Regions from separate parts of the Homo sapiens genome. Here region 2 is linked to region 1. The links come from fine-mapping of genetic effects on gene expression. Tissue or cell type: tibial nerve. Region 1 holds a variant in brackets; the other region holds the start of a gene. All regions are shown on one strand. Distances are from middle to middle.

Region 1 (8,110 bases):
TATATAGTGTGTGTGTGTGACACACACCATACACACACACACGCCAAATGGCACTTTCAGAAATGAAAGAATTTCAAGAGGAGCCACAAAGAAAAAGAAAAAGACTGAAAAATATAAACAGAGACTCACTGAGCTGTAGGACAATATCAAACGGTATAACATATACGTTGCTGGAGTTCCAGAAGGAGAAAGATGAACAGAAAAAATATTGAATTTATAATGACAATTTTAAAATCTAAATTTTTTATGACATCTATAAACTTACAGATGCAAGAAGGTCAATGAGCTCAAGGAAAGATAAACACATAGAAAACCATACCAAGAGAAATCACAATCAATTGCTAAAGAAATAAGTAATAAACGAAAAATATGCAAAGTTGCACAGAAAAACAGACATGATAAACCCAGAGAACAAAGAGAAAAATTATCTCAGATGTCTCAACAGAAACTATGCAAACCGGAAGACAGGGGACTGATATCTTTGAGGGATAAAGACGTAAAATGTCATGTAAATTTTGCTAACTGGAAAAAATATCTTTCAAACTTAGAGTTGAAATAAAGATTTTTTTTCAGACAAACAAAAGCTGAGAGAAGTCACTAATTGATCTTCACAAGAAGACATATTCATGGAAGTTCTTCATGAGGAAGAAAACTGATACCAGAGGGAGACTTGGAACACAAAAGAGTGAAAACACAGCAACCATAAGATTATAAGTAAATATGAAAAGAAGAAATCAACATGGAAATCTGAAAATATTTTGAAGCAAATGAAAATGAAAACACACCATGTCAATATTTGTGGGATGCTTCAGCAATTATTAGACAAAACCATACAGCTTTCGGTGCCTATACTTGAATAGAAGAAAGGATAAAAAATAATGACATTAAACCTTTCCACAAAGGAAATTCCAGGTCCAAATACCTTCACTGGTATACTAAATCAAATATTTAATGAAGAAATAATGCCAATTGTACACAAACAGTTACAGACAATAGAAAGGACGACAAGATTTTCAAACACCGTTTAAGGTCACCATTGCCCTGATGACAAAACCAAAGACATTAAAGAGAGAGAGAGAGAAACTATAAACCAATGTCTTGCATGAAAAGAACATCTTTTACAAAATATCAGCAAAACAAATTTGGCAATATATTTAAAGAACAATACAACATGAAGTGAAAATTATCCCAGGAAGGCAAGGTTGGTTTAATATTCAAAATTCATTCAATACAATCACCATATTAACATAGTAAAGAAGAAAAAACATAATTATCCTAATAAACTTAAGAAAAATATTTAACAAATTTCTTTACCCATTTATAACTTTAAAGAAATCTCTCAGCAAACTAGGAATGTAAAGAAACTTCTGGCCAGGCACAGTGGCTCATGCCTGTAATCCCAGCATTTTGGGAGGCCAAGAGGTGGGTGGATCACCTGAGGTCAGGAGTTCGAGATCAGCCTGGCCAACATGGTGAAACCCCATCTCTACTAAAAATACAAAAATTAGCTGGGCATATTGGTGGGCCCGTGTAATCCCAGCTGCTTGGGAGGCTGAGGCAGGAGAATTGTTTGACCCCGGGAGGTGGAGGTTGCAGTGAGCCAAGATCTCACCACTGCACTCCAGCCTGGGCGACAGAGCCAGACTCCATTTCGAAAAGAAAAGAAACTTCCTCGACTTGGTAGAAGACATTTATAACTAACATTATACATAATCGTGAAAGACTTAATATTTCTCACTAAATTCAGAATGAGGAAAGACATTTGCTCAGTCTATGTCTATTCAACATGATACTGGATATCCTAGCACTAGGTGTGTTTTGTTGTATTGTAATGAGGCGAGGAAAAGAAATACAAACATACAAATTAAAAAGGAAGAAGTAGAACAGATTTTATACACAGAGAACCTAAAATGGAAAATCCACCCACATGGAAAATTCTACTAGATCTTTAAAAACAACTAGTAGGTAGGACTACTAAGTGAATTTAGCCAATTCATAAAATTCAACTATATTTCTATATACTAGCCACAAAAAAACTTGGAAAATAAATTTGTAAAGAATTCCATTTATAATAGTTCAAAAGTATAACATACATAGGAATAAATTTAACAAAAACAGTGTAATTCCTGCGTACTGAAAATAAAAATTAGTGCTGAGAGAAATAAAAGAAGGCCTAAATAAATACATACACTCTGTCCATGAGTTGGGAGACTTAGTATTGTTAACATGTCAGTTCTCCCCAGATGATTTATAGATTTATTGTAATTGCAATCAAAATCTTAGCAGTCTGCTTTGTTGAAATGAACAACTGATTCTAAAATTTATTTGGAAATGCAAAGGACCCAAAATATCCAAAATAATTTTTAAAATAGGAACAAAGTTATATGATTTCAAAAGTTACTAAAAGCTACAACAATCAAGGCAGTGTGATTTTGGCAAAATGATTGACCAGTTAATGGGAAGGAATACAGGGTCAGAAATAGACCCACACATCCATAGTTAATTTTTTTACAAGGGTGCTATGTCAATTTAACAGAGAAAGAATGATCTTTTCAATAAATAGCACTCCAACAACTAACATCTCATACAGAAAAAAATAAGTAAAATTCAATCTTTCCCCACATAGTAAACAAAAATTACCTTAAAATAGATCATACACGTAAATGCAAAAACTTAAATATAAAGCTTTTAAAAGACAACATAAAGAAAATATTTGCAACATGAATGTAGGCAAAAATTTCTGAGATAGGACACAAAAACCTTAACCATTAAAAAACTTATAAAATTGACTTTATCTAAATTCAAAGCCTCTGCTTTTCAAAGCACTCTATTAATCAAAAATAAAAGGCAAATTCAACAACTGGGGAAATATTTATAAAAATGTATCTCACAAAATCCCTGTGTCTAGTATATACAAAAAACTCTTAGAACTCAATAATATGAAAATGACTATCTTAGTCCATTTTCTGTTGCTATAATTGAATATCTGAGACTGGGTAACTTAAAACAAAAATAAATGTATTTCTTTCTCTTCTGGTGCAAGAATAGGAAAAATCTTGGATGAAACTAGTCAAAGCACTGACATGCCATGACTGCACTGCAAACTTGATGGATAACTCACCTCTTTCAATCTGTTTCTTCACTTTGAAATCTCCTTCTCAACAGGGAGCACTCCTATTAGCTCCAACGTAGCTTCATGGGCAACATGATCCCACCACTCTAGATCCCCAAAGGACCTGAGAATGTGATTATAAGTTGTTTCTCTAAAATGGGAGGCAACTTTACCCCAGCCACCATGTCTCTCTCCTTCATCAAAATAGTGCTCAGCTACACGTGTTTATAAGAAGCCAGTCTAAGCAGAACCCATTTCCAGGGACCATCTGTACTTCCTAGCAATTGAACCCACAACCATGCCTTTGGAGATGACCAGCAGGACGGGGTAAGAGGTCTGCATCTGGCTTTCTGCTCCACACACATGCTTTTGTCTGGACTCCAAAGCCTGACAGCTGAAACTTCTGGAATGCCCTAGGCACTGCTGAATCAGATGTTTTTCAGCTTCAGTGATTCACAACTTCCAACTTGCAGAACATTCTCAAGCTAGCTATTTTTTGGAGTCCCTTTTCTCCAGCTGCCTCCAAAATGAACTGTCCCCAACCCTGAATTTCACTGACAGTGAGGTGTTTCTCTGGAAGTCTGGTTGGGGGCCATGCCAGCGTCATCGCCCTGTACTGGGCTTTGAAGACATGATGACCCACAGATTTTTATGTGATGAAGCTGCTGTTGCAGTGCCTGACCCCAGGCAGGTCCATGCAACACAGCCTGGCATCCTGTGTTTCCATATGGCACCAACCAGGTTGCTTTGAGCTCTCAGTCCTCTAGAAGCAGGGTCCCCTGAGGCACCACAACACAGAAGAGACCACATTGAGCCCTGTTGGAATATGTGTATGCACAGCTTTGGACAGCCACTGGAGGCCTGCTGTCTCCTTTACTGAATTCTGAGCCATTGCAGGTGCTCAGGATGGAGTCACCTCCATCCCATCCCACAGTAGAGTAGT[G/T]AAGAAACATGAATCATTCTATTAATTCCATCTGCTGAGACTGGAGCTTCTAGAATTTCACATCAGTGGGGTATTGGGGACAGTTGCTCTCTTCTCCATGTTTGTTTGGAGAATGCATTGATTTGGGCAACTGTCTTTGTTCCTGATATCTGCTCAGCTCCTGCAGGAAAATGCTGTTTATATCAACAGAGATGGCAACAGGCTGGGCTTACTGTCGAGGAGACTGAGTTGCAGAATCATCATCCCTGATTCCCAACAGAGCAACTAAGAGCTTGGACTTGAAAGTCAGTCACCCAGGCCCATATTTGAATCCAGATGCACATTTAACAGTTGGTTGACTTGGGCAAGTTACTGCACTTTTCCAAAAGTGTTTCCTCATCTGTAAAAATGGAGATAAAGGAACATGAGGAACATTCAAAGAGATAATATATGCAAAGGGTAGGCATACGGACTGCTGCCGGGTAAGCACTTGGTTAATACTAACAATAATTATTTTTCTTAACGGTGAGAGTTCCCCCGGGAAGCAAAAATAAGCCGTGGCAGAAACATTGCTAAGTGTTCGTCTGATTCCATTTTACTTTTCACTTTTTAAGTACTATAGACTTGAGGACTGTCTATGATTAGGTCGAGGTCAGATGGCTGAGTTCTGACCAATGGGAGGTGGGCACAAATGATGCACACCACATCTAGGCCTCATCTTTAAAAGGTTCTGACTTCTGCTCTTTCCTTCATTTGCACAGCTAGCAATGAAGAACCTGGAGATGTCAGAACCACAGGATAGAAGAAGCTCAGATGTTTGAGCACCTGCTTGAAGGTGACATGAAAAGAGAACAGCCCTGTACTGGACTTAGTGGTAGTGAGAAATTGTTGTTTATTATATTGAGCCATTGACATTTCAGGGTTTGTCTGCTACTTCAGCATAACATAGTATGTCCAGACTAATTCACAAACAAACACTAGTACAGGGAGTGGATGGGGAACCAGCTGGTCGAGGTACAATGGATATTCCCAGTCAGGTAGAGAAGGGCTGTGTAAATTTTTCATCAGGATGAAAATAACTCATGATTTTACAACAAAGTTGATTGCAAATTTCCCAGGCAACCCCCTACTGGAACCAGACAGTTGTGCCAGGAGGAGACAAGGCTTGTGACGTGAAAACCCCTTTGTCTGCACTTTCTGGTCTTCATATAGCAACGCTGCTGTTCCACTTCCATACCCCAAACTTTGCATGATTCTGTAGATTAAAAACATCCTCTCCATAAATTTCAATAAATTGGCAGTGAATTTCTGCAGCGGAAACAATTCTCATTTAAAACTACACATCTAGCCATGTATATTTGTCTGGGGACCACCTGTTGAAGGAAGCAGCCATCTGTACACAAAGTCACAAACGATCACATTCAGTCCATATTAGAACGTGGCCACACATGTTTAACAAAACATCACGTTCCCTGGATCATGGCTGTCCTATGCCAATGGAACCAGAAACTAATCCTGTAAAGCTCTAATGTGAAGACCCCAGGGCCCTTGCAGATACTGTTCTTTCTGCCCAGAATGCTCACTTTACATATGACTAGTCTTCATCTTCAGATCTCTGCCCAAAAGTCACCTCTTCAGAGATGCCTTCCCTGAATGCTCTTTCTGCAGGAGGTAGCTCCCACCCTTACTCCTCTATCTCTGTACCATATCCATTTCTTCCATAGAACTTACTATATGTAATTGTGGGGGGTGTGTATGTAACTTCTTTCACTAGACCCAAGTAACTGGGAAACTCCCCAACCTCTAGAATTCCAGGTGTATGAGCTGATAAAGCCCTTGTAGTGTTTAAGCCAATTTCAGCTGAATTTTCTGATATTATAGCTGATTTTACATCTAAAATCTTCCTAACAAATATATCTTCTCTCTAATGTATTACTACTGTTGTCTTCCCTGAGATTATCTGTATAAATTAAAAATCCACTATGTGCCAGGCACCACGTTAGGAACTTTATTTCATTTAATCTTCACAATAACTCTGAAAATTAGCGATTATTTAATGCTATTATATGGGTGAGGAAATTGAGGCCCAAAAAGTGTAACTAACATCGTTGGCTCTGCATTCCTTCCTTTGGGGAGCTGTTCTCCCACATTCTGTGTGATTCCGTGTCATTTAAATATACCACAAGGTGCGTACATGATCCAGGCTGGCCAATCAGAGCACTTCTCCACCCAGACTCTGTGATGGGCCAGGAGGAGACACATGACCCAAACAAAGCCAATCACAGTCCTTCCTTGTTCCCTAAATGCTAGGACATTAAGAACCTCTCTGGTTTGAGGATCACACTCTAAAAAAGCGTCATAACCCTGCTTTGGCCAGGAGCTGTCTTGCTGCCATGTGGAGAGGGCCTGCCTAAGAATAAAGCCTCATCCAGGGAGAGTGAGTGAAAAAGAGGCCAATGAGATCCCTTGAACTCCTGGATCCAACTGTGCCTGAGACACACACTTGGGCTTCTCGGTTCCATGAAGCAGTAAATTAATCATTACTTAATATGGTCTGAGTGGATTTCTGCCATTTGCTACTGAATAAAGATGGAGTGGGCATTACGTAGAAGTTAAATACATGTTAGTTCTCTCAACTTTCCTCCTTAAAGTGACCACTGCCCATTAACCCCACAACAGTTGTCAACATGTCAACTGCTGCCACTACAGTCACCCCTATTTTTTCACTACCCTTACTATGTCACATTTGGTCCAGCCTCTAGGCCATGCACAGGCTATTCTTTCTGCCTGGATACAGAATTATGTATTTTCCAAGGGTCACACTTCTAAGTAAACGTACTCCACAAATGACCTACAGCCCCTCTAACTGCAACTTACTGCCCATTTGCTAGTGGTGGCAGGGGTTGAAGCAAGAATTAAAAGCCCACAGGCCTTTAAATGTCCTATTTTAAGTCAGTGACTATTGCCCTGCAAAGAAAGGACTATTGTTTCTCATTCATATTGAGTTTTATACTCAAGGTGACTTCATAGAATTTCTCTCATTCCTTCTTTTTCGTAGCCCTGTTAGAGTTGGATAAGAGAGCAATTAATATACCCATTAGACAGCTGAGAAAGCTGAGTTCCAAAAAGGTGTAGCAACTTAATTGCAATTATCAAGTCCAGACTGAACTTGGAATTCTTCCAACCTCAGCCCAACCTGAGAGGCACCAACGTGTTCTAATTTGGCAAGCCACAATTATAAGCATCCATTCCCCAACCTCCTACCACACCCAGCACCTGGTCAATTTGGACAACTAAGCCCTATCAGGTTAGGTTGCCAGATAGTATACAGTATGCTCAGTTAAATTTGAATTTCTTTTTTTTTTTTTTTTAGTATAAGCATGACCCAAATATTGTCTGGAACACACTTATATTGAAAAATTATTCATAGTATATGTGAAGTTCAAATGTAACTAGGCATTCTGTAGTTTTATTTGCTAAATGTGACAATGCTACATCAGATGTTCTTCCAGTAAACTAGAAAAGGGGTGCAAGTTGTAATTTCTTTGGAAAGTCAGACTTTTCTGGCATGGATCCTAAAACACTACTATTCTGTGCACAGCATCACTCTCTAATGTTTGATACTAGGGTAGGGTTTGATGTCACCTGATATTATGGCCAGGATCCAGGAACTCTTCAATCTTGCTCTATGATGCACCTCTCCTTCCAAGAGCTTTCTGGAGGGTCTATTTACACAAGAAACAGTGGCAAAATGGGACTCAAGATACTGTCATTCTAGGCAGAGCCGTGAGTGGCCTTCCCCATTAGGAAATCGTGACCCACTGATCTTGGACTCTGATTAATCCCAATCAGATTAGCAACTTCCTGCCCTTGGGATAGAGGGGAGTGCCTAGGGAAAGGGCAGGCACAGGAAACTGAAATGTGGAGAAAGAGCGTGGCTGAGTGTTAGCCTTTGATGACGTCTCCAGTTCAGAACTAAGGAACCTGGTGAGTAGTCTCTTTTGGAAACCAAGACTGAGAACATGTAAATTTGGAAGCTACGGGATAAGCCAAGGTGGGTTCCACAATCAGAGAGA
Region 2 (8,110 bases), 360 kb before region 1:
ATTTGGGTATATTAAAATTAGGAATTATGTTCATTAAAGGGCACTATTTGGCGTGTGAAAATGCAAACCACCTAGTTGGAGATGTTTTAAGTATATATAACCAACAATCAGACTCATGTTTAATCTTACAAATCACTTATTTAAAAAGATAGACATGCCAGTTTAAAACTGAGCAAAATAATTAAGCACTTTACATCTAATTAAACCATAAGCACACAATAAGCTCGAGGTCATCAGGGAAAGACAAATTGAAATCATAATCCAATACCATTACAAACTTATTAGACTGACAATTTCAAATGTTGGTGAAGATGTGGAGCCACTGGAACTCTGTTTGTAGGATGAATTTGAAGGGTGAAAACTGATATGACCACTTGAAAAAACTACATTTGTATATGCTATGACTCAGAAATTTCATTTCCAAGTACGTACTTAAGATAAATGCTTATATTTATTTGCCAGAAATACCTGCAGAAGATGTAATGCCATATGAAGTACACAGCATTCCCAGTGAAGAATTCTGTCCTAAATATTCAAGCTGAATCTACTGAAGCTTATAACCTTAATCCAGTTTACAGTGAATTCAGGGTGTCTTAGACCATTGTGTTGCTATAAAGGAATACCCGAGGCTGGGTAGTTTATAAAGAAAAGAGGTTTATTTGGCTCACAGTTCTGCAGGCTATATAAGAAGCATGGTGCCAGCAACTGATTCTGGTGAGGGCTTCAGGAATCTTCTAGTCATGGCAGAAGGTGCAGAGGGAGCAGGCATGTCACATAACAAGAGAGGGAGCCATGTGACAAGCTCCCTCTGCACCTTCTGCCAAGATTAGAAGAGGGAAGAGGTGACAGACTCTTTTTAACAATCAGATCTCATGAGAACTAATATAGTGAGAACTCACTCATTACTGCAATGACAGCACCAAGTTATACATAAGGGATCCACCTCCATGACACAAACACCTCTTACTAGGTTCCACCTCCAGTGTTGGGGATCAAATGTTGACATGAGATTTTGAAGGGACAGATATCCAAACTATATCACAGGGTAAAGAGAAACATGTACCATGAGAAAACAGTTCAATCCAGAATATTACAAAATGGTCTGAACTCTTCCAAAAGTCACTGTCAAAAAAAAAAATGGCGGGCCAAAAAAATATAACATCAAATGCAATGCATGAACCAAGACTGAATCTTGATTGAGAAAAAAATCACCTCTAAAAGACAGTCTTGTGACGGTTGGGGAAATTTGAATGCTCAATATCAGATGTTATTTTAAAGTTACCATTATTTTTCAGGGTGTGAAAATGATATAGAGGCGTGTTCTTATACTCAGGAGGTACCTGCTGACATATTTATGGGTGAAGTGTCATGATATCTGCAACTTATTTTCAAATATTTAGCAAAAAAACAATGTATAGATGGATGATAGATGAATGGATGTAGATGCAGCTCTAAAAATAGCATGAGAAATAAGGTAAATACGACAAAATGTTAACAGTTGTTTAATTTAGGCAGTGGGTATTTGGTGTTTATTTTGCCATTTTATCAACTTATCTGTATATTTAAAATTTTAATATATTCCTGAATTATGTATTTTAATAGGATTTTGTACTTAGCTTATTTAGAAGGTACAAATATGTTTTACTCTACTTTAAGAAAATAAACATTAGAAGTTCTAGAATATATATTATCGGTATAGGTTATGTTAGAAAGAGTACTGAAACTCCAATCAGAGAACTTAAAGTGGAAAAAAATTAAAAAACCCTTTGGCTCCACATTAGAGGTCTGGCTCATGAATATACATTTATATATTTCAGGTTAAAATAAAATACTTACTGTATACATACATCACCTTTTAATGATTCCCAGATTGAGCTACGTTTTTCCAATGAGCCAACCAGCTACTAGTGCCAGTTAACTCCAGATGAGAGGGATTCCTCTGTATACTTTGTGTATGGAAAGAATGTAGCATCCAGCTAATAACTGGTTCAGTGATTGTGATTGGAATAGCCATCTGTTAGTGTAGTTGGGTATTCCAAGAGATAACAGGATGAGTGAAGACTGTCCTGGCCTTCTAGGGAGCCTCATGCAATATGGTGGCGAGAAGCCCAGGTCTTGAAGCAGAGGGACATGTGGTTAATTCCTGGAGGTATAATCTTGGGAAAATCACTTAACCAACATGAGCCTCAGTTTTCTCATATGAAGGATGAGACCTACCTCGCAGAGTTTTGGTAGGGCTTAAATGTGACCATGACTCTATAGCAACTGTATAATGTGGGTGCACCAGCAACAATGAATTAATTGTTGGTGGTATCATGTATAGGAATGTCTAGTCAGAGGAAGAGAGTTCTAAGGCTGTAGTTGCTGCTGAAGACACATAGTAAATAGGGGTTCTGCTGTTTCAAAAAAAATTCTAAAAGGGAGAAATGGGCTAAATTTATCAAGCATGCTTAAAAACAACCTGACTCATAAATTGGCTAGACCAATTTTCTACAAAAGATTCCCAGGATCATAGGCATTGGTATCACCTGCTGCACTTTTTCAAGATGTAGACTCCTGAGCCAAGCCCTGTACCTACTGGGTCAGAAGCTCTCGACATGAGGCCTGAGAAGCTTTATTTTAACAGGTATGAAAGCCACTGAGTGTTGAGACTGTCTACCCTGTTCACTGCTGTATTCCCTGCACCTAGCAGAATGTCTGAGGAGCTCAGTAAATCCTGGGTGATTAAATGGACGAACAGATGAATCAATAACATGACTCTGACAAATAGGGCAGAGTAGGAGTTCTGATTTCTGCTCTTTCTTACATATGCCTTAGGCTGCAAGTTGCCTTCTCCTCTCTTCTTTTTCCTTTTAACGCTGTCCTTAGGGTCGTCATCACCTGATTTTACTGCAGAGACTTGGTGAGGCAGAAAAAGGTGAACCCCGGGCTTTTCCCTGCCTGAGAAGTCCCAACCTGTGAGCTAGATTTATATACAGCAGTGGATTGAGCAGTGCTTCTCAATCCTGGCTGCACTTTAGAATGACCTGAGGCTTGGCCCGCACCCTAGACAAATTAAATCAGAATAACTGGAATGGAGGTCCAGGTATTGAAATTTTTCAAAAGCTCCCAAGTGATTCTGTTTCATAGTGAAGTTGAGAACCACTGGCAAACCATAATATGGATACCTCTAAAAATCTTAGTGTTGAGTGCAAAAGGTGGTAAACGATTTATAGCACGTTACTACTTAAGGATATTAAACTTTAATATACACACAAAACCAAGTTCTGTGTTTTTTGGAGATAATCTAAGGACATATAAGAAATCCCAGGAAGGAAGACAGGAGAGGGAAATGGGAGGAAACAGGAGCGAGAATAGAGAATAAATGGGGAAATATAAAATAAAACAAGACAGCGAGATTACACAGACCTTAAAGACTAAAAAGCGTGGCTCCCAAACATCAAATCACCATAGTTAGTATGAACAGGGCAGTCATGTGTACTAGACACAGTGTAATTGGTTTACACACCTTATGTCTGTTAATCTTCATAACAACTCTGAGGTAGGTGTTACTATTTAGAGTCATTTTATAGAGGAGGAAACTAAGGCTTAACCAAGATCATACAACTAGTAAGTGACAGATTTGGGTATAAGCCCTGTCTACCTGGATGGAGTCCAGGCTCTGTTTGCTCCATTCATCACCTCTTTGAGTCCTCTCGAGCACCTGCTGGAAAGAAAATGTCCTCCTCCCCAAGCCCACGTCTCTGCTAGGCAGCTCAGGAACCACCAGCACATACTTCATCCCAGCCCTTGCCAAAGATGGGAATGAGAATGACCATCCAATGTTCTGTGCCCAATGCAGAAGAAAACCTACACATACAACCTTCCTGACCTGGAAACATCCAAAATCAGCCTCAGTTTCCTAATGAGCCTTTCCCTGCCTGAAAAGTCCCAACCCGTGAGCTAGATTTATATACAGCAGTGGATTGAGCAGTGCTTCCCAATCCTGGCTGAAGACGAGCAATGTTTGTTGGGTTCAAGGAATAGAAAAAAGCCTCGCATGGCTGGAATAGAAGAGGAAGATGGTGGGTGCTGCAGCAGAGAAGGCAGGGGCTCAGAGCTCTTCACTTCCCACCAGACATTCCTTTTCCCTTGGGGATGGACTGAGCATGTGGAAGATTTTCCATGCAACTTCATATCCACTGTTCACAACACCTGCCTCTGAGGACGTGATCTTCCTACCAATCTCAGGACCTTTCAAAATTAATTATAATAAAAATGTATTTATTGAGGCAGGCATAAATATTAGTCTCCATTTTCTTCAGAGAAAACAGAAGCATACAGCGGTAGCTTGAACAAAATTTCCCAACCAGAAAGGGATGAGGGAGGAGAGACCGGAAGTACAAGCTCCTCTTATCTGAGTTGCCGCCGTCTAGAGGTGAGCTGATTTTCTGACAGCCCCTTCTCCTCTCCTCACTGGATATCCAGTTTCCAGGTAGGTCCTTCCAGGTAGGCGCCCCCCTGACCTCAATGCGTGCTCCAGCTCTGGGGTGCATTCACAGGGGTAGGACATAGAAGGTAAACTCTGACCAGCTGCATGTGCAGCTACCTCTGCAGAAAAAATCAAGAGGCGCTGGAAGCCCTTCTCCCTTTGCTTAACAACATCTCCCCTGCTGCCCCACAGCAGTATCTGAAGTTCCCCTGTTGGCTTATGGAAATAAAGGCTTTTGTTAAAATATAAATCTGTAATCTGACGGGATGTGAAAAGATTAAGGGACGGGCTGCCCAAACTTTACTGTGCTTGACACTCAACTTATAAGTGTATTGGAAATGCAGATCTTAGGTTCTTATACCACAGATTCTGATTCAACAGGCACCAAATGGGGCCCAGGTAGCTGCAATTCCAACAAACACTTCAGGTGTTTCTGATGCTCGTGTTCTCTGAATCTCGTTTTGAGAAACACTGTGTGACTATGAACTCTTCAATTAGTTAATGAGACTTGGCCCAGAGGTCAATTTTGTCTATAATGAAGCAGAGAGGAGAAAGACACAGCTGCTCCCCCTCTGACTTGGTCTTTCTCTGTCCCGTTCAAAGCTGTGTTCATAGCTCAGGGCTTTAAGAGAGAGTGTTCAGAGCCCTAACTCAGAAGGACCGCCTGGAGACCTGCCAGGGTTTTGCCTAGACACACGTCACACCTTTACAGGGGTGGCGAAGGCTTGTGCTATCTCAAGACCTCACGCAGTACTTCTCAGTTTAATGGGCCCACTCAAGAGGTAAACGTGGAAAAAGAAAAGTTATATGCACACACACCCACACCCACACCCACACCCACACACACACACACACAGAGCAATAAAACAGGAGCAATTTATTCATAAGATTCTAAGTCATGAATTGTCTCTACTTACAAAATATTAGCCTATAAATTATGATTCTGCCAAGCTTCATTTTGAACAAACCCACAATCTCAGAAACATCAGCAGTTCAACTGCAGAGAGAGATGATGAGGTGGCTTGAGAAGAGTGACAGAAATGTCTCTGGATGGGATTCTGGACCTTCTGGGAGGAGGCTTCTTTGAAGGCCACCTGGCGATCGCGTGGTTTCTGATTCTCCCCGTAGTGATCGTGCCTTCCCAGGTACTGAATGGATCTCTTTGAGCTCTTTGCGTGGCCGATGTGTGAACTTTTGGCATGGCCAGTGTGTTCAGTGGGAGTGCTGGGGTTTACAATTGGAGGAAGGATACCGACTCCCTTTATGGCTGGAGCTTCTTGGGATTCCTAAGTGTCACCTTGGTCCACAAGTAGCTGTTAAAAATTAGAAAAAAGTCAGCTGTTTGTCTTCTCATTCTTCTACAGGGCTCCCAGAGATTAAGACAGCCGAGCCTTCCTCTCCCTGAAGGGCCCATCTCTTTCTGAAATTTAAATAATTTGGGCATTTAAAAAAATGTACAATTAAATTATTATTGACTACAGTCCTCGTTTTGTGCTATCAAATACTAGGCGTTATTCATCCGGAAAAGTGATACTTTGAATTGTGGTGATACAGTGTTTCAACAGATCCTTATATCCTTCCAAAGTCTTGAATGCTATTACAACAGGGCGTCACATGAGGGCGCTCTAGAGAATCCGCAAGAGCAAATTCCGTAGTAAATGGGGAGGAGGGAGTTGTTATTAATAGATTTTACTTTTTAGTTTGAGTTTCCTTAGTCTAGAAGGACTCACAGAATTCCCAACTGTGCTTGCATGCCTGCTGTGCCCAGCGTGTGAGTGTGAGTGTATGTGTGTGTGTATGTGTGTGTGTGATGCACGCATGGAGGGGTTAGGGAGGATGCAGGAATAGAAGTTGATGAGGGACAAAGGGGAGGGAAAATTAAAATGATGAGCTTCAGAAGTCACCTTCTTTACAATTTGAGAGGCAATGTTCTGCTCCTATCTCTTGAAATGTCCTCTATCTCTTCCTTTCAAGGGAAAAAACACCAGTTCCCACCCAAGAGTTCTCCAGGACAAGGGAGGCCCTGGAGAAATGCAGTCAGAGGCAAATGGGAACAGATAGCTGCTTGTCAGCGCAGGTGCATCTCTTCCAGTCCACTTTGGCTGAGACTAACCTGACCTTGCTGAGCCCTGGCCTTGCCGTCAGCTTGCGCTGACAACAGGAGACCAGGCCACACTCTCCTAGCAGCTGCCCAGGCGAGGCTCATGCCCCAGAAAAAGCAGCTCCAGTTACACATTAGTCACAGAAATAACAATGATCAAAGGGAGCCAAAGGCATGAAATGGCTTCATTTTCCCAATTTAATTATGGGACTGGAGGATCCATTTCAATCTGGAAGGAGCCTGATTTCAACTTGTTATAAAATGGTTGGATAAAGTGCTGTATATTATTTTTTGTTTCTACCCTCATCCCTCCTCCCCATCTGCAATACAAGTTTTCATAGGCTTTTGAGTCCTTTTCAGCCCCTCCCTGTAGACGCACGATAAGAAACATAAATATGCCCCTTTCTTACTTGAGTCCTACTCGTGATGCTGATGCGCCCAATTAGAGTCTGTAGTTAAGGCCCCTGGGATTGTTCTGGGCCCTGGAAAAGAATGGCAGCAGGTGAGTGATGAGAGGTCCTCCCCCTCAGGGCAAGTGCAATGGCCTCATTGAGAAAGTATTCAGCCATCTGTAAAAAGGGGCCTATGGCAGTGGGGTCAGATGACAATGCCCCACATGCTTTAGTGGTTAAGATGCTTCAGTGCTCAGATGCTTTAGTGGCTACAAGTTTTTTACTGGGCTGAGAAAGATGTGGATCAAAGCTGTGTTCCAGGTACATGTGATGGGCTTTCTATCCCCTGCCACACACACCCACACACATGCACACACGTGCACACACACATATACACGTGGACCCTCTTGCCCCAAAGCCAGGCCTTGAGCTTTGAAAGGCTAGAGGCAAGAATTAGACCGGGGATGTGTATTTCTGTCCTTAGAAGTTGGCTGGCTGTTTTATACTTACTAAATGACAAAGTGTGATGAAATTGTTGCCTAGTAAGGACAAAGCCACAAGGTTTTTTTTTGTTTTGTTTTGTTTTGCAGAGGGGAGGGGAAGGGCAATGATGAGACAATTCTTTTTGGGTCAACCATCGTACATAGCACATAGAAGATTTGACTGGGACCACATAGTGAATGGCGTCCTTTAGAGCTTACATGGGCGCACAGAATCAGGCAGGGGCTAGAAGTCAGGGGTGCAGTTTCTAGACCAGCTCTGCCGCTGACTTGCCCTGTAAATTTGGGAGGGACTCCTCTCCACTCCGGGGTTCATGTTCTTCCTCTGGACTGGGCGATTTCTCTCTCTGCACCTTTTCGCTCCAAGGATCTACTAGTCCATGTCTCTCTGATGCTTAAACATCTGTGTGCAGCATTTTTAGGAGGCCTCTTTCCTCTGCAAAATAAGAGGCCTCTGCTCTTACATTACTTTGGGATATGTTTGGAATTTTACTTATTCTCCACAAGATTTAACTGTAGTACAAGGTGAGTCTTTTTCCTACTTCCCGGGAATTAACCTATGGCATAAATTACAGGCAGGAAATAGATGGAGCAGATAAACATGGAAGGCTTGCTTTCTTTTCCTCTTCGTCTTTCCTTGAACTTT

What was found. PIP is the estimated chance that this variant, and not a neighbour inherited with it, causes the effect.
Region 2: it holds the start of CASC18, and the variant in region 1 is fine-mapped to the expression of CASC18 in tibial nerve (GTEx, PIP 0.98).

Annotation. Positions count from the first base shown.
Region 1 is chr12:106,054,981-106,063,090 of GRCh38, forward strand. No RefSeq gene overlaps it. Among named protein-coding and RNA genes, the nearest start is that of NUAK1, 80 kb to the right of the region's middle. The variant G/T (reference allele first, on the strand shown) is at 4,056.
Region 2 is chr12:105,699,783-105,707,892 of GRCh38, forward strand. It overlaps CASC18 (cancer susceptibility 18), which reads left to right and starts at 4,421. Exons shown (of 5, transcript NR_110109.1): 1 at 4,421-4,474. LOC105369959 (a long non-coding RNA gene) reads right to left here. Exons shown (of 3, transcript XR_945309.3): 2 at 6,983-7,054; 3 at 5,334-5,784.